7 linked regions of the Homo sapiens genome follow. The protein of the gene in region 7 interacts with the protein of the main gene of each other region in a biochemical or structural test. Each region holds a gene or a part of one and is shown on either strand. Other genes may lie near its edges.

What was found.
Region 1: the proteins of YWHAG (region 7) and ING1 form a complex in vitro, tested with the Homo sapiens proteins (one study listed by BioGRID).
Region 2: the proteins of YWHAG (region 7) and SOS1 interact in a biophysical measurement, tested with the Homo sapiens proteins (one study listed by IntAct).
Region 3: the proteins of YWHAG (region 7) and LRRK2 interact in a biophysical measurement, tested with the Homo sapiens proteins (one study listed by IntAct).
Region 4: the proteins of YWHAG (region 7) and SAMSN1 form a complex in vitro, tested with the Homo sapiens proteins (one study listed by BioGRID).
Region 5: the proteins of YWHAG (region 7) and UBE3A form a complex in vitro, tested with the Homo sapiens proteins (one study listed by BioGRID).
Region 6: the proteins of YWHAG (region 7) and USP37 form a complex in vitro, tested with the Homo sapiens proteins (one study listed by BioGRID).

What each region holds. Positions count from the first base shown.
Region 1 is NC_000013.11:110,715,890-110,720,199, reverse strand, and holds part of ING1 (inhibitor of growth protein 1), read right to left. Parts: coding exon of another isoform or gene 4,192-4,310; intron 972-4,191; coding exon 268-971; 3' UTR 1-267. UniProt on the Homo sapiens protein: Cooperates with p53/TP53 in the negative regulatory pathway of cell growth by modulating p53-dependent transcriptional activation. Implicated as a tumor suppressor gene.
Region 2 is NC_000002.12:39,023,552-39,027,861, reverse strand, and holds part of SOS1 (son of sevenless homolog 1), read left to right. Parts: intron 1-3,724; coding exon 3,725-3,852; intron 3,853-4,310.
Region 3 is NC_000012.12:40,304,524-40,308,833, reverse strand, and holds part of LRRK2 (leucine-rich repeat serine/threonine-protein kinase 2), read right to left. Parts: intron 3,050-4,310; coding exon 2,868-3,049; intron 368-2,867; coding exon 138-367; intron 1-137. UniProt on the Homo sapiens protein: Serine/threonine-protein kinase which phosphorylates a broad range of proteins involved in multiple processes such as neuronal plasticity, innate immunity, autophagy, and vesicle trafficking.
Region 4 is NC_000021.9:14,539,510-14,543,819, forward strand, and holds part of SAMSN1 (SAM domain-containing protein SAMSN-1), read right to left. Parts: intron 1-4,310. UniProt on the Homo sapiens protein: Negative regulator of B-cell activation. Down-regulates cell proliferation (in vitro). Promotes RAC1-dependent membrane ruffle formation and reorganization of the actin cytoskeleton. Regulates cell spreading and cell polarization. Stimulates HDAC1 activity.
Region 5 is NC_000015.10:25,369,516-25,373,825, reverse strand, and holds part of UBE3A (ubiquitin-protein ligase E3A), read left to right. Parts: intron 1-2,013; coding exon 2,014-3,260; intron 3,261-4,310. UniProt on the Homo sapiens protein: E3 ubiquitin-protein ligase which accepts ubiquitin from an E2 ubiquitin-conjugating enzyme in the form of a thioester and transfers it to its substrates.
Region 6 is NC_000002.12:218,473,949-218,478,258, forward strand, and holds part of USP37 (ubiquitin carboxyl-terminal hydrolase 37), read right to left. Parts: intron 3,034-4,310; coding exon 2,892-3,033; intron 938-2,891; coding exon 682-937; intron 1-681. UniProt on the Homo sapiens protein: Deubiquitinase that plays a role in different processes including cell cycle regulation, DNA replication or DNA damage response.
Region 7 is NC_000007.14:76,352,492-76,355,991, forward strand, and holds part of YWHAG (14-3-3 protein gamma), read right to left. Parts: intron 1-3,500. UniProt on the Homo sapiens protein: Adapter protein implicated in the regulation of a large spectrum of both general and specialized signaling pathways. Binds to a large number of partners, usually by recognition of a phosphoserine or phosphothreonine motif.

The sequences.
Region 1 (4,310 bases), on a different chromosome or scaffold from region 7:
CAAGAAATCAGTCTGAGACTTAAGTGTTGAATCAAACCTATATTTGTAGTTTCTAAAATGCTGATCCACAGACCACTTTCTTGTTACACGTGTACCAATGAAAACAAAAGGCAAACAGAATCACTGCCATCCCTATGAAAGGAATGGTTCCTTTACTAACATTCTTTAAAAATATACATTTTACACTCCTTGCACCTCAACAAAGGCAGCAATGTAATAAATACACGGTTTATTTTGTCCTCCTCACACCAGGCGCCTGTCCACAAACTACCTGTTGTAAGCCCTCTCTTTTTTGGATTTCTCCAGGGCTTTGTCCATGGTCTTCTCGTTCTCCCCCCGGCACTTGGGACAGTACCACTTGCCCTTGGGTTTATGATTGAGCCCCACGCACGAGAAGTGGAACCACTCGATGGGGCACTCGTCGTTGTCGCAGCCGATCATCTCCCCATAGGAGACCTGGTTGCACAGACAGTACGTGGGTTCGTTGGGGTCGATGGGGAGGTCGGCAGGGGACGCCTCTCGCTCCGCCTTGGCCTTGGAGCGCTTCTTCTTCTTGGAGGTCTTGGCCTTCTTCTCCTTGGGTGTGCCCGAGGCGCCGTCGTCGTGGTCGTGGTTGCTGGACGCGTTCTCACGGTTCTCGTTGTTGCGCTGCCGCCGTGAGCGCTTGCTGTTGGGCTTGTCAGCCTGCGCTGCCGCCTCGCCTTTGGGCCTGTCCGCGCCAGCCTTGCCGCTGTTGCCCGCTGTGTCGCCCAGCTCCTGCTGCGCCTCGAACAGCTCCACGTGGCTGTCCACCTGCCGCGTGCGGTTCTCCACCAGCTCCACCATCTGGCTCACGATCTGGATCTTCTCGTCGCCCAGCTCCTGGCTGCGGATCAGCGCGCGCTGCACACAGTGCAGCATCCGCCGCTTCTGCGCCCCGTCTGTCTCGCGACTGAAGCGCTCGTAGCACTCGTCTAGCTCCTTCAGGATCTCTGGGGGCAAGAAGGACAGGCGTCACTCGCGAGCAGGACACCGGGACAACCCACACGGCCCCGGACGGGTCTACGGAGAGGGCTGGCAGGGAGCCTAGGGGCCAGCGCACGGCTTGCCCAGAACAAAGCCCACCAGCCACAGGCTCTCCCGGGCCTATCTGTTCCTGTGCTAACCACAACACAACACAACACAACACAACACAACACAAATGCCGGCCCAGCTTCCACAGCGGCAGGAGCCGCTCCAGCCACCCCAGGGAACCTGAGAACAGTTCCCAGGCACGCACGGGTGACAACGCCCGAAGCCATTAAGAGGAAACGTTTAAATGAGGTGCAGTGCTCGGGACCCAACATTTATTAATACTTTCTATTAATGACTATGTCTATACTGCCATCATTTTTACTCAAATGTTTCTATTTGAATACAATTATTAATATACATATAACATTATATAAACATGGTATTTATTACATTTATACACAATATACAAACATTAATAAAATATATTATAAATTATTTGAATATTTCAAATAAAAAAGGTCTTTATTTTCTTTATTTTAATATACCAACATCTAGAATACCCTGTTAAATGAGAGAATGTGTATAAATTTATATAATAGCTCTCTATGATTTAAAGAACCGGGTTAACAGTAAAGGTCCAGGATACTTTGTGACTTAGGTCCTCAGTTTCAGTCCCCACATTTATTCTAGCATGTTATCCCTCTGTATTAGTGACAGCAAGAACAGTTCTGCCACAATAATCCAGAAAACCTAGCTTTGCTTTATTATTATTACGACTTGTTATTATTTTGGAGACAAGGTCCGTCTCTGTCGCCCAGGCTGGAGTGCAGTGGTGCAATCTCGGCTCACTGCAGCCTCGACCTCCCAGGTTCAAGGGACCCTCCCACCTCAGCCTCCTGAGTAGCTGGGACTACAGAAGCACCACTGTGATGGGCTATTATTATTATTTTTTAACTGCAGTGAATGCACTAGCCTTGCTTTAAAGCGAAGCTGGTAGGTTTTACTTTTGCATCTACTGCTTAAACAAAAACATCTTCACATCTGTTAAAGTCAATGGACTTTAAAATGTTATCAAAAACAAAAGAAAACCTCTTCAGTATTTAAATGTAAACCTTCCTGGGCATGTTAGAGGACAGTGTATATGATTTTAAAGTGTAATTTGGCAAGTGTAATTAGGCAATTTCTCAAGAAACAAAAGCTATTAAAAAATCTAGTTGAAGTAAACAGCCTTGCTAAAAAGGCTACTTAAATACACAGAAATTCCAGAGTTCTTTTTCCTCAAACAGTAACCATTAAATTAAACAGTACCAGATTATTCTCCTAAAACCTTTTTGCAGTCTCTTTAAACAAGGCAACAATACTACCTTTTTTTGTTGTTGTTGAAACGGAGTTTCACTCTTGTTGCCCAGGCTGGAGTGCAATGGCGCGATCTCAGCTCACTGCAACCTGCCTCCCAGGTTCAAGCGATTCTCCTGCCTCAGCCTCCCGAGTAGCTGGGATTACAGGCATGTAATACCACGCCCGGCTAATTCTGTATTTTCAGTAGAGACAGGGTGTCTCCATGTTGGACAGGCTGGTCTCCCAACTCTCGACCTCAGGTGATCCGCCCGCCTCGGTCTCCCATGGTGCTGGGATTACAGGAGTGAGCCACCGTGCCTGGCCAACAATACTACTTGTAAACTAGGGGAGGGGCTGAGAGTGGGAGGGATTGTCTAAAATGTTACCCCCTTCCTTTCCAGATCTTATCTCCAAATAGTTATAAGACATATACCTAACACTAGAGTAAACATAAGAACTCAGGCCAACGCTGAAGCTTCTCTAAATGGTAATATTTTCCAGAGTATATTCTCAAACTAAAGACAGCTTTGAAGACTCCTAGAGGAACAATGCAGGCTGCCTGCCACCAGGAGGAAAGCCCTAGTCTCATATAGTAATTAATTATAAAAATAAATAGCTGTGTTCAACGTATCCAAGTAATACCAATTTATTCAACTTATTTATCATAATGTTAAAATATGTGTACCATTTATTTTTAAATGGATTTAGGGTTACAAAATGGTATCACTTCTTTTCATCAGTAATCAAAGTTCTAAAGACAATATTGTCATTTCACAGAAAACTGTATCATATAAATTTAAAATTTAATAACACAGAAGTTATTTTACATCACAAGCAAGCTTCCATCCAGGTGAAGCCTAATTTGTGGGCAAGAGAAACAGATATCCCATCGCAAAATTACCAAGAAGTATTTCTGTTACCTAATATTTCTTTGATACTCCAAGCAAAGTATTTTATCAACAAAGCCACTAAGTACAAATATTTATAAACAGGAACAACACCACTGCTAAATAGGAAGCCATCCTTCCAGACACTCTGCTTTTTCAATGCCAGCAACTCAGCTTCAGACACTACTGCCTTTTTTCCAAACATATTCCACACCAACATTACCATGGAAAGCAGCAGCACATGCAATTTACAGATTAAATGGGGTTGTAGCAACATTTAAATTGGTTTGTCCAATTATTTTAAATGTATTTTAATTTTACATACGGGTTGCACTGAAGTTCTTTATGAAGCGAACTTCCCAGGGGGTGGGTGGGTATTTTTATGATAATGTTTGAAAAATAATTCAAGCAACCTCAAACACCATTTTAAATCGACAAACTAATTATAATCCAAGTTTATGAATTAACATACAACTGATGCCTACTAAGCAAAAGACGTTTGACTTCCTACAGAGTAGGTCTGTGGAAGTCTTTCAGAACTACGCGGCAGAGCTCAGCATTTACACCGAAGTCCAAGGAGCTGTGACCCTTGCGACAGATTCGCTCGCTTCTCGGCGCTCCCAGCTGCGCCGCTCCAGTACTCCCGGGGGGGCAGGACTGTGATCTTTCCTGAAGCCAAAAAGTTCATCACCCTAGGTGAACATGAAGCAAGCAGCAAGCCAGGCTCTCCCCAGCAACGACAGGAGGACAAAGTGGCTCCATGAACTTTGCTGTCTGGACAGCTGGAACCCTGCACCCCGCCCCGCGCTACTTTTTTCTATCGTCGAACGATCAAAGTGGTCTCAGCCCCTGCCTTCCTTCCGTCCGGAGCCCCAGGGTCACCCCACGGGGCCCGTCCGGCCCGAGGACAGCACCTTCCAGAAAAGTTTCTGCGCCGAGGGTCCCCCTCGTGGACGCAGCCCCAGTCACTCACGTTTCCACGGCCACGCGCGGCCCCACCCTCGGGTCAGCAGAGATGCGGCCTGAAACTGTCTCCGAGCCGGCCCCGCGGGTCGCGGGAGGCGGTCCGAACTGCAGCCCCGGCCCCGAGCC
Region 2 (4,310 bases), on a different chromosome or scaffold from region 7:
ACAAGACTCCATCTCAAAAAAAAAAAAAAAATAATAATATGATTCCCTAGATGAGTTTAAGTACAATCTCATATGGTAATATAATCTCAGGATTTAGTACTTTTTTTAAAACTATTCAAATAAACTGCCTTTGTACAAATGTAATTGTTACTATTGCACATTATTATTAAATAGGCACTCATGAAAAGCATGGTATTGAATATCACTGGTAACAAGAGGATGCTGCTTTGTTGAGTCTCATTTACATACTAATTGCCACTGCTTTGTCTCTGTAGCCACAATAAGCCACCCTTTTGATGGTAGTTAGCTTGAATTATATTGCACCAGTGCCAAGTTTAAATTAGCTATGTTAAGTAAAAGAAGCAAAAAGTGGTAGAAGAAAGGTCATTTATTACACTGAAATTTATTTTAGAGGCTTGCCTAATGCTATAAAGGTAAAAATGACATTTTAAAAGTATTTCATCAGGAAAGTTTTATGGGTTTGAAATGTACTTTGGGTTTGTGGCTTTTAAAATATTAACATTTTTGAGATACCAGAATATTCTGTATGTAAAATGCTACAGTTAAATAGTAGATAAATGATTCCAAAACTTGAAACATTTTTAGGATAGAAAATCAAAGGATGTCCAAGTGGATTTTTTCTTTTATAAATATTTTTATGTGTATGAGAATTATATATTTTGTCTACCATTAGGTATGTTTTCCTGAATTAAAAATATAAAAAATGTATCCAGGACAAAATATCAAATGCTCAATATTCTGCTACCTGTTAGTTATTTAAGACCGAAAAATTGCCTTGTATCTTACTGACTTGAATTTCTCTGGGCTTTGCTTTTGAGTGATTAAATTCTCAATCAACTCAGTGAACTAATTCATCGTTCAGTGGTGCTTTCATTAAATTTGCCTTAAGGTATACAGCAAGCTTGTCTAACCCCCGGCCCAACACAAATTTGTAAACTTTCTTAAAACATTATGAGATTTTTTTGCAATTTTTAAAAAGCTCATCAGCTCTCGTTAGTGTTAGTATATTTTATGTGTGGCCCAAGATAATAATTCTTCCAGTTTGGCCCAGGGAAGCCAAAATATTGGATACCCCTGGTATATAGCTTTCAATGTTAGATTATCTGCTGCTTTAAAGACTAAACTTGATAATGTTTAATGGTAACATTTTATTTGTCTCCCAGAATTCTGCCATGTGAGAGGCAAATAGTTTCAAATGATAGGGATGGAAGGTACTTTGAGAGATTACCTGGATTCCAGCCTTCAGCCTACTAGTAATATCTGTTAAGTAAAAACCTAGTATCTTTCTTTATGAACCCTGGCCATTGGCTTTCTTTAATCTAGCTGGCCATATTGAAGAACAATATTATGAATAAAAGATATTTGATTTTTGTATTAATATGTACACTTTTAAAGTCTCTTATCCTTTGGAAAATATCTTTCGTTACCCTTTTTATGTTGAGAATTGTTAGGAATAAATTTTTCTGTTTTTTTTTTTTTTTTTTTTGAGACGGAGTCTCACTCTGTTGCCCAGGCTGGAGTGCAGTGGCACGATCACGGCTCACTGCAACCTCTGACCCCTGAGTTCAGGCGATTCTTCTGCCTCAGCCTCCCGAGTAGCTGGGACTACAGGCGTGTGCCACCACACCCAGCTAATTTTTGTATTTTTAGTAGAGACGGGGTTTTACCATATTGGCCAGGCTGGTCTCAAACTCCTGACCTCGTGATCCCCCCGCCTCAGCCTCCCAAAGTGCTGGGATTACAGGCATGAACCACCGTGCCCAGCCTAAATTTTTCTTTTACTTAACACAGTTAAGACTGAAAATTTTCCTAAAAATGTAGATTATGCCTCTAGTAGAAAGTATGGTGAGTTTTTAATAATGAATATAAGAAATCTGGATAATAAAAGCTAAGTATTAAACATTACAATATGGTATTCATTACTTCTAGAATATTTGACCATTAAAGTATTTTAAGTAAATTTTAATAAAAATGGTTTAGAATATAAGTAAGAAATCTGTTTACTTTTCACAGGTCATCAGTGCATGTGGTATGTGCATGCGCATGCATGTAACTGATTTTTATCAATTGAAGCAGAAAGGAATGTGTTGTTGACCTTTAAGGAATACCTGTGAAAAACACAAAATCCTTAAAGTACTAATGTACTAATGAATACTTAAGCTAATTGAAAAGTAAACTTCTAGCCAGGCATGGTGGCTTACGCCTGTAATCCCAGCACTTTGGGAGGCCGAAGCAGGCAGATCACTTGAGGTCAGGAGTTTGAGACCAGCCTGGCTAACATGGTGAAAACTTGTCTCTACTAGAAGTAAAAAAAAAAAAAAAAATCAGTCAGGTGTGGTGACAGACACCCGTAATCGCAGCTACTCGGGAGGCTGAGGCAGGAGAACTACTTGAAGCTGGGAGGCAGAGGTTGCAGTGAGCTGAGATTGCACCGCTGCACCCTAGCCTGGGGTACAGAGCAAGACTCCATCTAAAAAAAAAAAAGAAAAATAAACTTCTTTATAAATCACTTTGAATATTTCATGATTGTGTATCTCAAGTCTTTTCATTCATGGTAGAGAGTAGGTATTCCTAAATTGTTGGATGAAAACTCTATTGATAAAATGTTATTTTATTTTATTTTAATAGACGGTATCTCAAACTCGTAGGCTTAAGCGATCCTCCCACCTGGGCCTCCCAAAGTGCTGAGATTATAGGCATAGGCCATTGCAGCCAGCCAATATGTGATTTCTTAACTTTTCCTTTTGGTAACCAGGAACAGGTTTAAGATGTATGAGTGAATTATTGTGACTCATACATCTGTTAAGTGCTTGCTTGAATCATAGCCACCTTACTGTATTGACAATTAGTTACTGATGACTTAGTTCTTGTTAAGTAGAGACGTTCTGTCTGACACAGATATTTGCCAGTAATAGAAAATATGCTTGAGTTTCAGTTTCATAAATATGTATATTATAGCTTCACTCAAAATCTTAATGTGGATATGGACAAAGTTCTTTATTATACTAATGTTAATTCTGTAGTATAATTACAAAGAAAACCATTTACACTTACATTGTGTGTTACCATTTACAAAGTGCTTTGGTTTTTAATAACAACCCCTAAAAGTAGGCAGGGTAGGCTTTTTATAAGCCTTATTTGGCAAATGGGAAAAGTAAGACTCAGAGATCAAGTGACTTGCCCCAAGGTCACACAGAAGTAGAGTCAAAATTTGATCCTAGATTTTGTAATTGAGATTCCTTCTACTATATTGCATCGTTCTCTGTATATTTATCTTCCTTATCATCTCAATATTATATAACAATAATATAGGGGTCAGAAACCTAAGACCAAATTCCACACTTAAAAAAAAAAAAACCTCGTCTACATGCTTAGTGGTATGCTAACTCTATGATAATTCAGTAGATCGATTATGCTCCCCATTTCTTTTCAGTGGTATGCACCTTGAAAAACTACATATTACTGCCTGTCACAAGATATAACCCATCTTAACACTGCTAATCTTGGTCTTTTAATGTAGAAAACTTGGTTGTGTATTAATAGTAACACACAAGAAAAACACTTTTAAAAAGAATATTTGATGACACATTTAAAATTTTTATTGTGACAGTTGAATAAATGTTATTTTTATCCTTAAATGAGTTTATTATTATTTTATCCAAAAATGTACTACTGGTTCAGATTTGTCATTTTGGCTTTACAGCAGTTAGAAGAAAAAAGTGAAGATCAAGAAGACAAGGAATGTTTAAAACAAGCAATAACAGCTTTGCTTAATGTTCAGAGTGGTATGGAAAAAATATGTTCTAAAAGTCTTGCAAAACGAAGACTGAGGTGAATATTTTTACTTTTTAAAATATCCTTTTTTCCCTGAATATTGTGGTGTAAATTCAGGGATCCCAGTTCCCTCCTCAAGTAAACAATGAAGAAAATAGTTTTAGTGACAAGCCTGGTCTTTTAGAGGAAGTGACATCAAAGCCAAGAGAATTGTTATTGTTTGAAAAACCTTTCATATTTGTGCATTTTCCTTGCATACTCCCAGACAAGACCTCCTGAGAGTCAACTGGTAAGCTGAAGGAGAGACAGAGTAAAATGTATCGGGTAGATTTATGTTGGCATCGTTATTCTGTCAAAGTAAAATTATTAGTGTCCTTTATTTTAGGGATTATATAACTTGAGGCATTAATTCAGATAACATTGCTTCCACTTTCCTGATTATAATATGTGCTACATGTTTTTAGCTTTGGGTCTTGTCCATTTAAACTCTTCTAAATAATTTATTTTAATCTTTC
Region 3 (4,310 bases), on a different chromosome or scaffold from region 7:
AGGAGAAATGAAGGGCTTTGGAATAATTCCATACAGTCTACCAGGTTTCTGGATATTAGAACAGAAAGCTCAGTTTTTGAATCCCTGTTCCAAACAAATGGTAAAAGTGAATTTTAAAATTCTATAGAAAGAAATACCTGCAAAATCCCACACATTTAGGACGAGATCTCTCTTTCTTTTGTCTCTTATTTGGATAGGCCAGTCTTTCACATCTATGCCAACTGTGGCACTTTGCATTCCAAGATCTGATTTCTTGGTTTTCATTAATTGCTGCAATAAGGTGGTTTTACCACTCCCAGTATTTCCCACAATCATAAGTTTCATTCGGTTATAAGGCACAGCCTTTTTTAATCGCTGTTGAAGAAACCTAGTATTTGAAAGATAAAAATAAAATAATAAACTGCTTAAAAGTATACTTGAGATTTAGGTGAGTTCTTTTACATGTCACACTATTCTAAAATATAGTATCCAGAAGAGTGCATATCTCATATAACTAATAATGTACATGTCTTTCAGAGTACTGTTAATGCATATATTTTGCTAGAGATTTTAGGGTAGTTGATAATGTTTGGTAAAATCACCAAAGAAAACATGTTACACTATCACCAGAAATAATCAAAAGGCCAAAATATGTTTGCAATACTAATTAGAATACGATATGCAATATATATATACCTCTATATATACACACATATACATACATGTATACATATTCTAATGTCTTTAAATAGTATGAAAAACCCTACAAATTATACGCCAGGTGCGGTGGCTCGCACCTGTAATCCCTGCATTTTGGGAGGCCGAGGTGGGCGGATCATGAGGTCAGGAGTTTGAGACCAGCCTGGCCAATATAGTGAAACCCCGTCTCTATTAAAAATCCAAAAAGTAGCCGGGAACAGTGGCAGGTGCCTGTAATTCCAGCTACTTGGGAGGTTGAGGCAGGAGAATCGCCTGAAGCCAAGAGGCAGAGGTTGCAGTGAGCCAAGATCAGGCCACTGCACTCCAGCCTGGGTGACAAGAGTGAAACTCAGTCTCAAAAAAAAAAAAAAAAAGAAAAGAAAAGAAAAGAAAAACCCTATAAATTATAAAGTTCAAAATTTCACAAAGTCCATATGACATAGAAACAAGGTAGAGATATATGTATACTGTTAAAGCTTGATAATAGGGTCATATTAGTTACATTATATATGTGTGTGTATATATTCATATATGGTATATATGATGTATAGCTATATATTCATGTATATCACATATGCATATAATAGTATATATGGATAGTGAGATCACATAACATCATAAATAAATATAAACTATTATACTATCAGCAGATGTTAGCTTTCATTCCTAATGATCTTAATGTAAAACCTGAATGAAATAGAAGTGTTTAGGTAGCTAAAAAACCACCTTTAAACTAATAGTAGAGTCAAAGTGTTATCAAAAATATAATGGATAGAGAAAGATATATTTTGAAATATGTTAAAATGTTGCCACAGTTTCAAATTAGAGAAAAAGACTAAATCATAAGTGAATTTTACATCAGAGTAGTGATCAATTCATTCCTGTAACTAATAAGAATCTGACCAACATTCCTGATGATATGACCAAAAAGCAACATTACCTTTCTTGATTTATTTCTTAAGAATGCACCACTATTTGAAAAAATGTCTTTCTTCAAAAAGCAAATGATGCCTACAATTTCTAATCTGCTCTAGGTCTTTCTGTCTTTTCTGAAAATGTTAAACATGTTTAAAAATATTTAGTTATATATTAAATTAAATATTAAATATTAAAAATATTTAGTTAGATAATACAGTATAATACACTGAAAGCTAGTTCTACTAAATGTTTAGTAAGAACTGAACCAATTTTTATATGACCATCTTTTCCAGTTTCAAGAGAGAAAAATAATTGGGTAGGATGAAGGGTAGCCACAATTAGCACAAAAGATAACAAACTCCTTTAAAATGAAATCAAGCTCAGGAGTTCAGAAAACAAAATCCTTCCTCATAAAAACAGATGAAGTTAAATATAAATTTAAGAGATTTTAGGCAGAAGAGAATGAGTAAGTATAAATCACTGGTAATTAAACAACTATTAATTGTATGCCAGGCACTGTGTTGGGTGCCAAGATTTGAATAGTGAGTGAACACAGCCATGGTCTCTGCCTTGGTGGATATTACAGTCAAGTTGAGAGGTGATGACAGAGCTGAGGTCTGCAACGTTAATACAGTAACTGTGGAAAAGGGAGCAAAGGATTTTATGAGAAAGTAATAAGACCGATGTGCTGAAAGGGAACAAAAAGGAGGATAAAATCCATTACCAAAGATATTTAAAGTGCTTAAAGTGTAAAGACCAGAAACAGTGATACTTGAGAAGTTTTGGTGCTTTCAAAACTGATCAAGGTGAGTAGATTACTCATCCTAATGGGCAAAATAGAAGTTAGTAATTTCACATGATGTCAGTAGCTATAATGCTTTAAGATGTAAGAGGCATATGTTAACTAGTTGCTATATGAAATACAGTGTGAGAAGTTATTATACTGTGCTGTATTTCTTTAGATTGTGTAATTGGTAACCAGAGACCAAATAGCAATACTTATTTTCTTTTAGAGTCTACTCCACTGAAAAGAAACAGAAGGAGGAGAAGCCGCTCTCAACATTAGTCTGGCTAAGAAGAATGAGAAATCTCTACAGTGGCACCACAGAAACACATTCATTAAATGAAAGGCAAATGACACACAGCATATTAATGCCAAATATTACTATTTATTTTTCCCTAAATAGTAACAATATATGTCCATCAAAGTCACAGAGAGTAGAAAATCTGAAATAAATTTAGTAAAACCAAATAGAAAAAAATTATCTAACCTTATGATGTCTTTGGCTTTACATCCTATATGTTTAAAATCAAAGTTAAGATGCAGTTCATCCAAAGGAAGATCCCATATTTTGCTTAATTTCCCCATTTCATTGGGAAAGGATCTTAGTTCCAAGTTGTAACTGACATCCAGAGATGTCAGATTTTCAAGACAGCCAATCTCAGGAGGAATCTTAATGGGAAAAAAAAGGGCAAAACCTGTTGGTGGGAAGGAAGAAATGTGCTCTGCCAAAAAACGTGATAAGAAACAAGAAAGGCTCACAGATTCCATCAGCAGCTTGCACAACCTTTCAACAGAGTTTTAAAACTTTCCAAAGGTTTGTCATAAGTTGTCAGTATGTGTTTAAAAACATAAAAACTTACATATAAAAACTTACTCCCAAACAATCTATGTCACTCATCTGTAATATTAAAAAACCCAATCTCCTTTGGTAACATACTTCATCTCTTCAAGACATTGAAAGTAAGGAAGTTCTTACCACAAAATGGATTTGGTTATCCATTATCTGTGACTTCATTCTGCTCCTTCAGTAAAGGCAAGAAGACCTAGTCACTACAAACCTGCATGCAATTTAGTGTTCTCAAAGTACAGCTACATGCTTATACTTTAGGTGGCATCCTAATTGGAGTAATTTCTTTTCTGTTCCAAATTTTTAAGCAATATATACTATATTTATAATAGAAAACACTCATTTGCTGGCAAAAAATCAGGTAGCAAAATATATGCACAGTTTTGCTGAACCTCACAGTGTCAGACACTTAATTCTTTTGGTTTTTGTAGGCAATACGCTAGAACTTGAAAAATAATATTTTCTGAGACAAACAAATTATCAATTTCAGATTTACAACAGAGAGAATGGAGCAAAACAAAAAAGGTTGATCCATTAGGGTGATAGCATGGTGGCGGAATGCAGAAATTTAAGAATGTACCAAGGAAAGCTGAAAAACAAGTAATACAGTATACAGGCCAGTAACAACTTGAGAAAAATGGTTTATTTAAGAGTCTGTTAACAGATTGGACAGAGATTTGGTGATACAATGACACACAGCATCACATTCATCTATAATTATGTATATATTCATATAATCCTTTAAAAGTATATCACAAAAGTAATTTTTTGAGGAAATTATGCTGTGTTACCATATCCATTTACCATAGGGTAGGCTTACAACTTGTTTAAAAAACAAAAAAAAATTGAATGGTATTGATATTTACAATGCTTATTTTGAATTTATAGTTATTAAATGACATCCACTACTATTCCATAGAACACTCTTTATGAGCTAGTACTATAAAGAATTTTTATCCTTATACTATCTTGTGTATTAGCAAAGCGTTCTAAGTTGTTTTGTCATAGTTAAGTAACAGTTAAGAATAATTTGAGTTAATCTATAATATGTTATATGATAACATCACACATAATTTGAAATGA
Region 4 (4,310 bases), on a different chromosome or scaffold from region 7:
GAGAGCCAAATCATGATTGAACTCCCATTCACAATTGCTTCAAAGAGAATAAAATAAATAGGAATCCAACTTACAAGGGATGTGAAGGACCTCTTCAAGGAGAACTACAAACCATTGCTCAATGAAATAAAAGAAGATACAAACAAATGGAAGAACATTCCATGCTCATGGGTGGGAAGAATCAATATCGTGAAAATGGCCACACTGCCCAAGGTAATTTATAGATTCAATGCCATACCCATCAAGCTACCAATGACTTACTCCACAGAATCGGAAAAAACTACTTTGAAGTTCATATGCAACCAAAAAAGAGCCCGCATCGCCAAGTCAATCCTAAGCCAGAAGAACAAAGCTGGAGGCATCACGCTACCTGACTTCAAACTATACTACAAGACTACAGTAACAAAACAGCATGGTATTGGTACCAAAACAGAGATATAGACCAATGGAACAGAACAGAGCCCTCAGAAATAATGCCACATATCTACAACTATCTGATCTTTGACAAACCTGAGAAAACAAGCAATGGGGAAAGGATTCCCTATTTAATAAATGGTGCTGGGAAAACTGGTTAGCCATATGTAGAAAGCTGAAACTGGATCCCTTCCTTACACCTTATACAAAAATTACTTCAAGATGGATTAAAGACTTACATGTTAGACCTAAAACCATAAAAATCCTAGAAGAAAACCTAGGCATTACCATTCAGGACATAGGCATGGGCAAGGACTTCATGTCTAAAACACCAAAAGCAATGGCAACAAAAGCCAAAATTGACAAATGGGATCTAATTGAACTAAAGAGCTTCTGCACAGCAAAAGAAACTACCATCAGAATGAACAGGCAACCTACAGAATGGGAGAAAATTTTTGCAATCTACTCATCTGACAAAGCGCTAATATCCAGAATCTACAGTGAACTCCAACAAATATACAAGAAAAAAACAAACAACCCCATCAAAAAGTGAACAAAGGACACTTCTCAAAAGAAGACATTTATGCAGCCAAAAGACACATGAAAAAATGCTCATCATCACTGGCCATCAGAGAAATGCAAATCAAAACCACAATGAGATACCATCTCACACCAGTTAGAATGGCGATCATTAAAAAGTCAGGAAACAACAGGTGCTGGAGAGGATGTGGAGAAATAGGAACACATTTACACTGTTGGTGGGACTGTAAACTAGTTCAACCATTGTGGAAGACTATGTGGCGATTCCTCAAGGATCTAGAACTAGTAATTCCATTTGAGCCAGCCATCCCATTGCTGGGTATATACCCAAAGGATTATAAATCATGCTGCTATAAAGACACATGCACATGTATGTTTATTGTGGCACTGTTCACAATAGCAAAGACTTGGAACCAACCCAAATGTCCATCAATGATAGACTGGATTAAGAAAATGTGGCACATACACCATGGAATACCATGCAGCCATAAAAAATGATGAGTTCATGTCCTTTGTAGGGACATGGATGAAGCTGGAAACCATCATTCTGAGCAAACTATTGCAAGGACGGAAAACCAAACACCGCATGTTCTCACTCATCAGTGGGAATTGAACAATGGGAACATCTGGACACAGGGCAGGGAACATCACACACCAGGGCCTGTTGTGGGGTTGGGGGAGGGGGGAGGGATAGCATTAAGAGAAATACCTAATGTAAATGACGAGTTAATGGTTGCAGCTCACCAACATGGCACATGTATACATATGTAACAAACCTGCACATGTACCCTAGAACTTAAAGTATAATAATGGAAAAATAAACAAAGAAACAAAGACAGATAAAACAAACAAAATCCTGTAAAAAAAAAAAAAAAGTACATAGCTTGAGTGAGTATCCATACTTGAACCAGGCTGTATGTAGTAGACCAAGGGTGTATTACCCTGTAGCCCATGATGGCTTTGAATGTGGCCTTGACGGCTTTGCATGTGGCCCCACACAAATTCATAAACTTTCTTAAAATATTATGAGATTTGTTTGTGATTTTTTGTGGTTTTTTTTGTTTGTTTGTTTGTTTTTAGCTCATAAATTATACTTCGTGTTAATGTATTTTATATGTGGTCCAAGAAAATTCTTCTTCTTCCAGTGTGGCCCAGGAAGGCCAAAAGATTAGACACCCCTAGAGTAGACTGAAGAAACTTCATTCACTTTACAAATATTTATTGAGAGTCTACTACGTTGAAAGTATTATGCTAGCTGCAGAGGGAGGATATGTGGTGCTTACTTCAATATTAGGTCATTTTTTAAAATATTTGAATATTAAGAAAGTTGTTAGCCTGGACAATCTAGCAAAACCCCCATGTCTACAAAACATATAAATACTAGCTGAGCATGGTGGTGCAGGACTGTGATTCCAGCGACTCGGGAGGCTGAGGCAGGAGAGTCACATAAGCTCAGGCATGCTGACGCTGCAGTGAGTGGTGATTGTGCCTGCACTCAAGCCTGGGTAACAGAATGAGACCCTGAAAAAAAAAAAAGGAAGGAAGGAAGGAGAAAGAAGGAACGAACGGAAAAGAAAGAAAGTTTTTTTACAATTGTAGGTGTTGACATGTGTGTGGACGCCTAGAGAGATTTCTTTGATGAACTTCCTGCATAGTCAGAGACAGGAATGACGATTTCTAAACTTACAGACGCTCTTACAGACATGGTTTCCCTGATCTCCATAAACTTTAGCTGGCAATTCAGGTGGAAACAGAAATAATATCTACAGTCCTGTTGCTTATAAAGGCAGTATATTAAGAACAGAAGTATTGGAAATTAACATATTTCATGTCAGTTTCATTTTTCATCTAACTCTGTGTCTTCTTCAAGGTAATTGACCTTCCTTATGCCTTAGGCTCTACATATGAGGCTAAATAAGAGTCATTCTCTCACAGTTGTTACAAATATTAAATAAATTAGTGTACAAAAAGCTGTAAGCACAGCAACTGACATGAAAATAAACCAATGATAAATATAGAAAAATAAAATATTTTAGTTGGAAAAACAGACAAGGAAAATTGTTATGTTCTATAATTTAAGCATTTATAGAGTGTAATGCAATAACATCTCATCAAATCTGAATATTGTATATGCTTAAAAGTTTTTAAAATCACTATCAGTAATGGACACTAGTAGTAAGAGGTAAAACAGCCAGTTGTGGTTGCTCATGCCTGTAATCCCAGCACTTTGGAAGGCTGAGGTGGTTTGAGATGGGAAGATCACTTGAACATAGGAGTTTGAGACCAGCCTGAGCAACATAAGGAGACCTCATCTCTATAAAAAATTAAAAATTAGCTGGGCTGGTGGCATGGTGCCTGTGGTCCCAGCTACTCAGGAGGCTGAGATGGGAGGTAGCTTGAGTCCACCCAGGAGGTTAGGGTTAGGGTTAGGGTTATGTGATTGCACCACATCAACTCCAGCCTGGGTGACAGAGCAAGACTCTGTTTCCAAGGTAAAGGCAAAATTCAAGAATAAAGATAACAGTACCTTGCATGTATGTTAAGCAAGCCTATTTTTAACTAACCTAAGTACAGAATACTTAACTATTATTCTCCTATTTCTTTTCTAATTTGGAATTTATCTGTATACAGTAGAGAGTTCTGAGACACACATTAAAGCCCTTAGAAGTTATTAACATTCCAGTACATGCAATGGGTTTCTTTTGTAATAATTCTGCAAGAATTTACCAGTTTCTGTTATAGAATATCTCTGGTCTCTGCCTCTCAGCCTATACTGTAAGTGTCTTACAATAAATTTGAATGCTACTCTTAATTTTGAGCTATTCAAAGGAGAGAACCTATACTAAAAATAGAGAAAGAGAGAAATAAAGGATGAAAAAGAGGGTACACTAATGATAACACTACACATGGTAAAACTGTATTTTAACATGTATTTGGACTTACTCTTTTTAAATTCATGAACATGTTTATCGATAAGTTTTAGGAATATAAGAAAATAATGAATTATTTTTGATATAGGACTGAAAATCTATTGCTACATATTATATAAATGAATGTTTTGAACCTTCTCATAACTGTAAGACCTATTTGAAAATACTAATAACAAAATCTTTCTCCATTAGCTTTCAATTGGAAAGTTTGATCATTTTTAATTGAGGTAACATTAGTTATAATATGCATTGCATTTGAATTGTCCAATAGGTCACTTGAAATAGAACCAATGACAGTTAACAAAAGCTAAATGATTAAATATTTTCTTCATTTTTTATATTGTCAGTTTTTACCCTACTATAGGATTTACAATTTAAAAAAAAACCACAAAAACAAGAAAATTCCTTTCACAAATTCTAAGAGTA
Region 5 (4,310 bases), on a different chromosome or scaffold from region 7:
TTTTTATCTATATACCTGAAAAATTCAGTTTAACATATTAAACACTACAGGCCAGGCACAGTGGCTCACGCCTGTAATCCCAGCACTTTGGGAGGCTGAGGCGGGCGAATCACGACGTCAAGAGATCGAGACCAACCTGGCCAACGTGGTGAAACCCCCTCTCTACTAAAAATACAAAAAAATTAGCCAGTTGTGGTGGCGTGCATCTGTAGTCCCAGCTACTTGGGAGGCTGAGGTAGGAGAATCGTTTGAACCCGGGAGGCAGAAGTTGCAGTGAGCCGAAATGGTGCCACTGCATTCCAACCTGGCAACAGAGTGAGACTCCATGTCAAAAAACAACAACAAAAAACACTCCTTGGAAAAAGTATAGGTACATTCTATATAGGATTAGTAGACTGTCAGAATCACTTGAAGATGTTCCGAAAGCATGACATATCAACAAAGGACATGTGAGTCTAGAATGGTGATCCCTAGGACAGGCCATATTACTGCATGCAAAGCAAGTCTTTGTTAACCTTATGACTTGCTCAGGAAGCAAAGTGTTTCATGTCCTAATAGGATAGTAGTATTTTCTGTTATGTTACATTTTAGGAAATTAGGAGTTTTGCATTGTCTTGTAAGAAGGTATTTTAAAAATTTTCAATGAAAATAATGAGAAATAGGTTTCCAGTGGTTTTATGCTTTTGGGGAAGAGGTTACTGATGTTTAGCAAAAGATGCTTATATATTCTTAATAGAACAAACCTGAGAATTAGTTCTTAAAGAGTTAAGGCCCATAAAAGAAACTGTAAGTGTTGGTACTCTTGTAGCTGGGCCACAGATCAGATCCTTAGTATGATAAAATTTGGTATTTTTGTGCTTCAATTTTTGGAGACCATTCAATGATCACTTACATTTTATATTGTCTTTCATTGTGAAACATATATTATAGCAGAGGTGGGAGTCATTAAAAATTCTACATGTTGTACACTACATGTATAAGGGTATATTTGGCGCAATGGAGGTAGGATTGTCTGTGTGCCTCTAAAATTAACCTCTCAAGTAGTTAATCTGATGATGACAAGTATGTCACTTTATTGATAAAAGGGAGAATTAAGACTATTCTCAGTATTATGTTGGTCAGTACACAAAATATATCATTTGTTTTTACCTGTGAAATGAAATATCTTTCATCCTATTAGCCAGAAGGGAGAAAGCCTTGGCCTGAAAATAACACTTATCTCAAAAAGTTGGGAAATGTGGTCCAACTCTGTGCCCAGGAAAAGAGGAAATAGATTTTGATGACTACATAGTCTCTGCACTGCTTGCCAGCTCATAAGTTTACTTCTTTGCACTGTTTGTTTTCATTGCTCAAAAACTATTTTCTGTCACTCTATGAGATTTAGTCTAACCTGATTCCTGGCTGTGGAAAGCAGTTTCTACTTAAGAGCCGATGAGAAATGGTATATTCTTCTCAATCACTCACAGAATGACTACCCTGGAACAAACTAGGAAGACCCAAAATGAACCAGTTTGATTTTAATACATACATAGATGCTGAAGGAGCCTTTTTTTAAGACCTTGCCTTCTTAGTCTTTGGAGAACAGAGTACTGAAACAAGAAAACTCACAGATTAGTAGTATTTCTGTGTGTTCTACAGTGAGGTTTTAAGAGCTGTATTATGATTAATCAGTACATGACATATTGGTTCATATTTATAATTAAAGCTATACATTAATAGATATCTTGATTATAAAGAAAGTTTAAACTCATGATCTTATTAAGAGTTATACATTGTTGAAAGAATGTAAAAGCATGGGTGAGGTCATTGGTATAGGTAGGTAGTTCATTGAAAAAAATAGGTAAGCATTAAATTTTGTTTGCTGAATCTAAGTATTAGATACTTTAAGAGTTGTATATCATAAATGATATTGAGCCTAGAATGTTTGGCTGTTTTACTTTTAGAACTTTTTGCAACAGAGTAAACATACATATTATGAAAATAAATGTTCTCTTTTTTCCTCTGATTTTCTAGATGTGACTTACTTAACAGAAGAGAAGGTATATGAAATTCTTGAATTATGTAGAGAAAGAGAGGATTATTCCCCTTTAATCCGTGTTATTGGAAGAGTTTTTTCTAGTGCTGAGGCATTGGTACAGAGCTTCCGGAAAGTTAAACAACACACCAAGGAAGAACTGAAATCTCTTCAAGCAAAAGATGAAGACAAAGATGAAGATGAAAAGGAAAAAGCTGCATGTTCTGCTGCTGCTATGGAAGAAGACTCAGAAGCATCTTCCTCAAGGATAGGTGATAGCTCACAGGGAGACAACAATTTGCAAAAATTAGGCCCTGATGATGTGTCTGTGGATATTGATGCCATTAGAAGGGTCTACACCAGATTGCTCTCTAATGAAAAAATTGAAACTGCCTTTCTCAATGCACTTGTATATTTGTCACCTAACGTGGAATGTGACTTGACGTATCACAATGTATACTCTCGAGATCCTAATTATCTGAATTTGTTCATTATCGTAATGGAGAATAGAAATCTCCACAGTCCTGAATATCTGGAAATGGCTTTGCCATTATTTTGCAAAGCGATGAGCAAGCTACCCCTTGCAGCCCAAGGAAAACTGATCAGACTGTGGTCTAAATACAATGCAGACCAGATTCGGAGAATGATGGAGACATTTCAGCAACTTATTACTTATAAAGTCATAAGCAATGAATTTAACAGTCGAAATCTAGTGAATGATGATGATGCCATTGTTGCTGCTTCGAAGTGCTTGAAAATGGTTTACTATGCAAATGTAGTGGGAGGGGAAGTGGACACAAATCACAATGAAGAAGATGATGAAGAGCCCATCCCTGAGTCCAGCGAGCTGACACTTCAGGAACTTTTGGGAGAAGAAAGAAGAAACAAGAAAGGTCCTCGAGTGGACCCCCTGGAAACTGAACTTGGTGTTAAAACCCTGGATTGTCGAAAACCACTTATCCCTTTTGAAGAGTTTATTAATGAACCACTGAATGAGGTTCTAGAAATGGATAAAGATTATACTTTTTTCAAAGTAGAAACAGAGAACAAATTCTCTTTTATGACATGTCCCTTTATATTGAATGCTGTCACAAAGAATTTGGGATTATATTATGACAATAGAATTCGCATGTACAGTGAACGAAGAATCACTGTTCTCTACAGCTTAGTTCAAGGACAGCAGTTGAATCCATATTTGAGACTCAAAGTTAGACGTGACCATATCATAGATGATGCACTTGTCCGGGTAAGTTGGGCTGCTAGATTAAAAACCTAATAATGGGGATATCATGATACAGTTCAGTGAATTCATTTTAAAAGTGACTGAAAAAAATGATACCATATAGCATAGGAACACATGGACATTTCTGATCTTATATAAGTATTATACTTTTGTTGTTCCTGTGCAAGTTTATAGATGTGTTCTACAAAGTATCGGTTGTATTATATAATGGTCATGCTATCTTTGAAAAAGAATGGGTTTTCTAAATCTTGAAAACTAAATCCAAAGTTTCTTTCATTCAGAAGAGAATAGAGTGTTGGACAAAGACCAGAACAAGAGAAATGTGGAGATACCCAATAATAAGTGTGGATGTGCAGTCTTGAACTGGGAGTAATGGTACAGTAAAACCATACCATAAAATTATAGGTAGTGTCCAAAAAATTCCATCGTGTAAAATTCAGAGTTGCATTATTGTGGACTTGATGAAGTGACCATGGCAGATCAGTGCCTGTTGCCAGTAAGAGTTGAGTCCTGCTGGGCCACTTAGAATATCCCTGTGTGGACGGCACTGCCTGGCTGTGGTAGTTTCTTCCCACTTAAAAATTCATAGAGACAACTCTGGGTCTTGGAACTTCTGGAAAACAGCAGCTATTCCAAAAATCTGGGGATTAGTGGTGCCTGTAACATCAAGTCCAGGGAGATTGAGCAGGGAAATACTGGAAACTCAGGTACTCATCCTAACTTCCTGGTTTTCCAGATGGGGTTGCCATTTGTTCCTTTTCTTTCCTCCACAAGATAATTTTAGTGTATCTGTTTAAGAATATAAGAGTGGCCAGAAGACAGAAAGCAGTCGTCAGTCACATTTCACCAAAATTTACATTTGTCTCAGGTGCATTATCGCAGAGCTTTATTGTATTTCTAGTATTAGCTATCCCTGTCATTGCTGCTACTTTTTTATCATCTTCAAGTAAAATTTAATGTCAACAAAAATTAAGGTAGTTAATAATACTATAGTATACTAGTAAAGTTGTCTGACACAGACAACTAGGAAATGTGATTTTTACTTTAAAATGT
Region 6 (4,310 bases), on a different chromosome or scaffold from region 7:
GTAAAGCATGTTACTGTACTGAGTACTGTAGGCAACTGTAACACAATGGTAAGTAGTTGTGTATCTAAATACATCTAAACATAGAAAAAGCAATGCATTGTGCAGGGAATGGAGAACTTGAATTATTTATACCCTAACACCTGGTGTAAATTCAGATATAGGAAAATGAAAGAATTATATGAATTTCTGAAATAGCAGTGGTGAGAAAAGCACCTCAGAACTGACACAAACATATATTAAATGCACATAAGAAGGCTAGTTTTACTAGTGATGTATACCTAAAGGGATATGGCATACTTTACCACTAGTATCTGTGTACTAGTCACAATATTTGCTTCTCATTTTTCAAAGCTTTTTATAATACAGAATGAAAATGCCATCAACCCTGTTATATACAGATCCACTTCACCTCCCTTTATTTGTTTTTATCTGAGAAGGAGTCTCACTCTGTCGCCCAGGCTGGAGTGCAGTGGTGCAATCTTGGCTCACTGCAACCTCCGCCTCCCGGTTCAAGCGAATTCTCCTGCCTCAGCCTCCCGAGTAGCTGGGATTAGGGTCACACACCACCATGCTCAGCTAATTTTTCTATTTATCTCCCGTTATTTGGAGGTTATTTGTCACTACAAAACTTTGAAAGAGTTATGTTTTGTTTCACAGAGGTTTAATCTTCATTAAACCTACCCAGCTCTGTGATTGTTTTGGGCTTCTCAGTTTCCATAGTGTCTGGATTTTCTGGCATTTCTTGAATATCATCTTCTGCAAATCCGGTATCTGGGCTGCTAGTTGGCTTATCATCATCTTCATGACTCAGAGATGGTGAAGCATCTCTCTTACTTATCTCCAAGACAGCTGCTAGAAGCTCTTCTTCGCTCATTCTGTCAAATCCTGAGTTTTCCAATTCAGACTTGTCAGGCTCTATTGGGCATAATTTTGAATCCTGAAGAAGAGAGTTACTTTTAGAAGAAACCAGAATACCTACAAATATAGCAATCTTAATTAGTATTTAAAGTAGCAACTTTATTTCTAAAAAGTTTCCTTTCTTTGATGCTTTGGGTTATTTAACAATCAATAACCAATATATAAACTAAATGGTGAGTCTAACTTTAAAAATAATAAATACATAAGAATACATTATTTTTTCTTGATTGAAATAAGTATATATTTTGTACAAATTTGGAGAATACATAAAAATAATAAAATAAATTCATTCAAAATAGATTACTCAGAGATAATTACTCTAAGTATTTTCAATTTATTTTCTTCCAGATATATATAGATTATACAGTAAATATTCTATCATTATGCCTACTACACCATTATAAATGTTAGCTGATCTTATTAACAATAAATGAGAAAAATAAACACGACATCAAGATTATGTAAAGAAGGCTGGGCGAGGTGGCTCACGCCTGTAATCCCAGCGGTGGATCACCTGAGGTCAGGAGTTTGAGACCAGCCTGGCCAACATGGCGAAAACCCGTCTTTACTAAAAATACAAAAATTAGGCTGGGCGTGGTGGCTCATGCCTGTAATCCCAGCACTTTGGGAGGTCGAGGCCAGCAGATCACTTGAGGCCAGGAGTTCGAGATCAGCCTGGCCAACATGGATAAACTCCATCTCTACTAAAAATACAAAAAAATTAGCCAGGCATGGTGGCACGCACCTGTAGTCCCAGCTACTAGGGAGACAGAGAATCGCCTGAACCTGGGAGGTGGAGGATGCAGCAAGCTAAGATCACACCACTGCACTCCAGCCTGGGTGACAGGGCAAGAGTCTGTCTCAAAAATAAATAAATAAATAAATTAAATAAAAAACCAAAACCCAAAAATTAGGGAGATGTTGTGGTGTACGTCTGTAATCCCAGCTACTCAGGAGGCTGAGGCAGGAGAATCACTTGAACCTGGGGGATAGAGACTGCAGTGAGCCAAGATCGTGCCACTGCACTCCAGCCTGGGCAACAGAGTGAGACTCCGTCTCAAAAAAAAAAAAAGATTATGTAAATATTCAAAAGTTGTTTTCTGGGAGAATTTTGGACTTTCACACATTTCTCATTCAAGTTGAACAACCACAAACTACCTCTGGCTTTAAAGTAAGATAGGAAACAGAACAAAAATAACTACTAAAATAATTCTATTATTTAAAAGGGAGGCTTAAAATAAAATACAGTAGCATAAGATAATGCAAACACCTAGAAAAGCTTAGATCTTCAAAGTATTAACTATCCATATAATTATCTATATATTAATCCAATTAATAAATCCATAATTTAAACAATTAGATTACTTGGTTGCTCTGTTGATGTAAAATGTTTACTACAGTTCCCTCACATAAACAATTGCTACAGGCTGGGAGTAGTGGCTCATGCCTGTAATCCCAGCACTTAGGGAAGCTGAGGTGGTAGGATCACCTGAGCCCAGGAATTTTAGACCTGCCTAGGTCACACAGTAAGACCTTGTCTCTACAAAAAATTTTAAAAACTAGCCAGGCATGGTGGTACATGCCTGTAGTCCCAGCTACTTGGGGAGCTGAGGTAGGAGGATTGTTTGAGCCCAGGAGAACGATGCTGTGGTGAGCCGTGATTACACCACTGTACTCCAGCCTGGGCAACAGAGCGATACCCTGTCTTAAAAAACTGCTACCAAAATAAAGCAAGTAATTATTTGAGGACGAATATGCAAAAGTAGCTTTGAAGGGCAAAAAAAGAAAGTAATTTGTTTAGAACAACGAATTTCTCGTAAGTCTTGATCCATCTGTAAACAGACTGATTTCTGTAGCCAGAGAAGGCATTTTCTTTAAAACTAATTAGTTTGATGATGGTTATGAAAGACATTTGTTTGGACAGTAAGAGATAAACAAATCTTTGTCAGATGTTTTAAGAAAATATTACTTACTTTTTCCAGGTCTTCCTGCTGCTGTTCGTTGCCTAACATTTCACAAAGTCTCTGGCTGAGGGCCACAGAACGTTTTAGCTCATCCTCACTGTCTGAATCAAGGCATAAAGCCAAGGAGCTCTTGGATTTGAAGGTGAATTTCCTGTAATTTAAGGAAAAAAAAAAAAGCCTGATAAACATTTGTCTTTGTTATTCTTTTATTGTAAAAATATCAAAACAAATTGCTTTTCCATTACGGAAAATTACTTAACAGAAAAAAAAGATATATCAAAAGAGGTATATTTCAGCATTACCTTTGCCCCACTCCAAAAGAGCCATGCTTTGAAAACTGGACAACTCTTATGCTACTACGTATCATCAGTAAACTAATCATGTTGTGCCTTTTTTCTTTTAATGATCAACCCCAATGAAATTTGCTATTGTCTTTATAAATTATGCTATTGAATTCATGCAGGCATAGCAATGAATAAATGTTTTTGACAACAAAGTGCATGAAGACTAATTTGTGATCTTTTAAATTATGATCCATGCACTTTAAAAATAACAGTAACATTCCACTTATCCACTTATCTGTAGGTCAGACTTCTGGCAACCTCTACTTTCCAGAACATAGGGATTCCAAAGTAAGAAAAAAGGCTTCTGAGGAAGGCAGTTCCAAAGCCCATGTACTTAGAGGGACCCTTTCTTTCCCAGGAAATGGTGAATAAAATAGTGTATCAAGTTCATCAAGAAATGAGAGCTAAGAAATGAGAAAGAATAACCACAAGAAAGGCAAACAAGAACTATAAAGTCATTTAATGTAAAAGCAAACTATCTTGTAATAATTAAGAGCCTCTGAGGGCAATATCATATTGAAACACAGTGCAATAATTGATACTTAAAATGCTGATTCTAAGTCATTAAGATATACTTAAATTATCCTTAGTTATTTTAAGAATGTAAGGAACAGTGTAACATATTTTAGAAACATTTTCATCCAAACTGTTAAAAATCTTTTAAAAGATAAATCGTTAAAAGGTAAGCTTCAGTTATATAAAAATTCACTTATGTGGAATCCTTTAATGATGCCAGATAAGTAAGGTGTTACTGTGTTGTCTTCTAGGTAAGCCGAAAATAAACTAAAGAAAAAAGTGGTAAAGGTCAAAGAACAAGAACTTTCTTTGATGGAGGTTAACACAAATTCATATGCAATACAAAAAATATATATAAAATGAAAACTAGAAAATACAATTAACCTGAATGTAAAAACTGAAAATAAACATATAGACTAATGGCACCAAGAAATAAGAGGCCAGAGTGGAAATCAGGAAGATTACATAGCAATGTAGATCAAAGAAAAGAGGCAAGTGGTCAGTGATAAGCCCAAACATAGTGTGTGGCTCAGAGCAGCCAGGATATCACTGCACTCCAACCTGAACA
Region 7 (3,500 bases):
TGGGTCCCACTCACCAAAATGGGCTTTCTCTCTCCAAAGACAGGTACCCTTCCAAAGGTTAAGAAGCCCAAGAGTTTATTTGGAATAATTTTATTGTTTTAATGTTATGTTAAAAATCTAAATTATGTAAGAACACTCTCTTTCCTATTCACAACCAAAACTTTTTTTTTTTTTTAGAGACAGAGTCTCACACTGTCACCCAGGCTGGAGTGCAGTGGTATGACCTCAGCTCACTGCAACCTCTGCCTCTTGGGTTCAAGTGATTCTCCTACCTCAGCCTCTCTAGTAGCTGGGATTACAGGCATGCGCCACCATGCCCAGCTAATTTTTGTTATTTTTAGTACAGATGGGATTTCACCATGTTGAGCAGGCTGGTCTTGAACTCCTGACCTCAAGTGATCAACCCACCTCGACCTCCCAAAGTGCTGGGATTACAGGCGTGAGCCACTACATCCGGCCCATAACCAAAACTTAATGCCATGCAGCACATATTAGTAGTATTCAACTCAGGTAAAGAAAAGTCTATTTCTGTAGGACACACACTTAACAAGTGAAATGCTGGGAGCAATTTAACTAAGACTTCACCAGTTCTTTAAACAGAAAGAAAAGACTCATGCACATGGTCTTTTAAGATTTACAATTTTTATTTTTTCTACAAAATCATGGTAGCAAACCAATTATTTATAACTATTTACCTTAAAATTAAAGCTTTCTTTTGGGAATTTTTTTTCTTTTTTTCAAGATGGAGTCTTGCTCTGTCACCCAGGCTGGAGTGCAGTGGTGCAATCTCAACTCCCTGCAACCTCCACCTCCCAGGTTCAAGTAATTCTCCGGCCTCAGCCTCCCAAGTAGCTAGGATTACAGGTGCATGCCACCATGCCCAGCTAATTTTTTGTATTTTTAGTAGAGACAAGTTTCACCATGTTGGTCAGGCTGGTCTCCAACTCCTGACCTCATGGTCCACCTGCCTCAGCCTCCCAAAGTGCTGGGATTACAGGCGTGAGCCACCGTGCCTGACCCAGGGAATTTTTTAAATCAGTTTTCGTGTAACTAATTTTCTACCACTCAAATTCATAAATTCATTTAGCAAAATATCAAAATTTTCAAGATTTCTACAAATGACAATTTTAAGTAAAATAATATGTTTTGGTAGTTAATCAAAATGATAGCTGACACCTAAAATGGAATTTGGGGAAGATACAGAAAAATAATTCTGAGAGGAGAGGCCATAAGGCAGCTGGTATTGGTAGCCTTTGTAGAAAGGCAACATTTAGCTGCATTATAATTATAGACCGGGCTGGGTGTGGTGGCTCACACCTGTAATCCCAGTACTTTGGGAGGCCAAGATGGGCAGACTGCTTGAGTCCAGGAGCTCAAGACCAGCCTGGACAACATGGCAACACCCCGTTCCTACAAAAAACGGTACAAAAAAATAGCCAGGTGTGGTAGCATGCTCCTGTAGTCCCAACTACTTGGGTGGCTGGGGCTGGAGGGTCGCTTTAGCCTGTGAGGTGGAGGCTGCAGTGAGCCATGCTCCAGCCTGGGTGACAGAGTGAGACCTTGCCTCAAAAAAAAAAAAAACAAAAAACAAGCAATCAAACGCACACATAATTATAGACTGGAATATCTGGTAAAACACTAAGTAACTTTCAAAAGAAGGCAAAGAGAAGATAACGTTTTATATCATTTAAAAGTAGTATTTCCCTTTGACTACCGAGCATAGAAAGTGGTCCTTGAGGCTGGGCACGGTGGCTCACGCCTGTAATCCCAGCACTTTGGGAGGCTGAGGTGGGCAGATCACCTGAAGTCAGGAGTTCGAGCTCAGCCTGGCCAACATGGTGAAACCCTGTCTCTATCAAAACTACAAAAATTCACTGGGCGTGGTGGTGGGTGCCTGTAATCCCAGCTACTTGGGAGGCTGAGGCAGGAGAATCACTTGAACCTGGGAGGCAGAGGTTGCGGTGAGCCGAGATACCACACCACTGCCCACTGCACTCCAGCCTGGGTGACAGAGCAAGACTCCGTCTCAAAAAAATTAAAATAAAATACAATAAAATAAAATAAGGTTAGGACTGCTGATATTGGGAATGGGCAAAGAAGGGAAAAGTAACTACTTTTCCCATCCAGCTCCTGACAGCCACAATGTACTGAATGTCTTGTGCTGGCGTCCCATCAGTTAAGAGCCTCATGCTGCAGGAGCTCCCCAGTCTCAACCCTGCATCCTACTCATTAGGAAACCACTACCACACAGGCGGCAAATCACTGATAATAAAGCCAGCCTTAGGGCTGAAAACGAGTCACTAGAACACCAGCAAAATTTCCATAATCCCCAAAGAGTTAACGATTTGCTCAGATTTCAAGTAAATTGTTCTTATTTATTTGGGTGAACATTATACAGTGTTCAAGTTCCATAACTTTTTAAGTGGAAATACAGTACAAACGTAGCTAAAGCTAATTCCCTTTTTTCAGTTCAGACGCTTGGAAATGAAGACAAAGGGATAGACAATTATCGCTGGCTGTGAGCTGTTGTGGGCACTCCATTATCGACACATTCCTGAATAGGTGCTGAATTCCAGCCAGCTGTAGTCCAGACCGGCATCACTTTTTAAAAATAACCACTTTCTCTCTTCTTCAACATAGGTGATGGCTGCACAACACGGAATGTACCCAATGCCACTCAATTGCACTTGAAATCTGATGTGACTATGTGACAGTTATGTTACGCAACTTTTACCTCGATAAAAACACATCGTTTTCTCCACTCTTTTCAATAATTTAAAGATTGGCTTAATAAATAAGGCTTCCCTGAGTACAAGAGATGAAATCCTACTCTTAGGTTTGCAGTTAATCCAGGACTGCAATGAGGATGAACATTTAGCGCCATGTTGAATCTCAGTAGAATTCAAAAAACACATAGATTTCCAAAATAATCAGAAAAAGCACTTAATATCTGCTTCAGTTACTGGGAAGGCTAACACATGAAAGGCAAGCTGTATGATCTGTATTCTTTCCACGCCCAAGAAGAGAACAATTCAAGCCACATGACTTAGAATAATGGTTGGCAGAACTCCACCTCTGAAGAGTCTACAGAGGTACCATTACTCCATTAGTGATAATAGCTATTGATCTCCTGGAAGAGCCTGGGGGGGAGGGGGAATGGAATATTTAAGATAGAAAGAATTTGAAAGTCTATTGATCCCACTAGGAATATTTAGAAAAATTATGATAGCCTTTTGCCACCTTTGCCCTCCCACCCCTCATTGAGTTAAACTGCTTAACTCAGTAACTTCAACAAAATTAGTAACCCTGAACCTTTTCTCCCCAAGGCAAGTACCAGTAGCCTATTTAAAATATTAACTTCTCAAGAGACTAGTAAAAGTCAAAGGACAAGACAGTATTGTCTAATACGTAGGATACATCTAGGTGTTCACTCTCCTTCAATACAAGACTAAACATCTGTCTTAAAAGACCTAACATTCCTCTTTCCTTCTTTTCAAAAT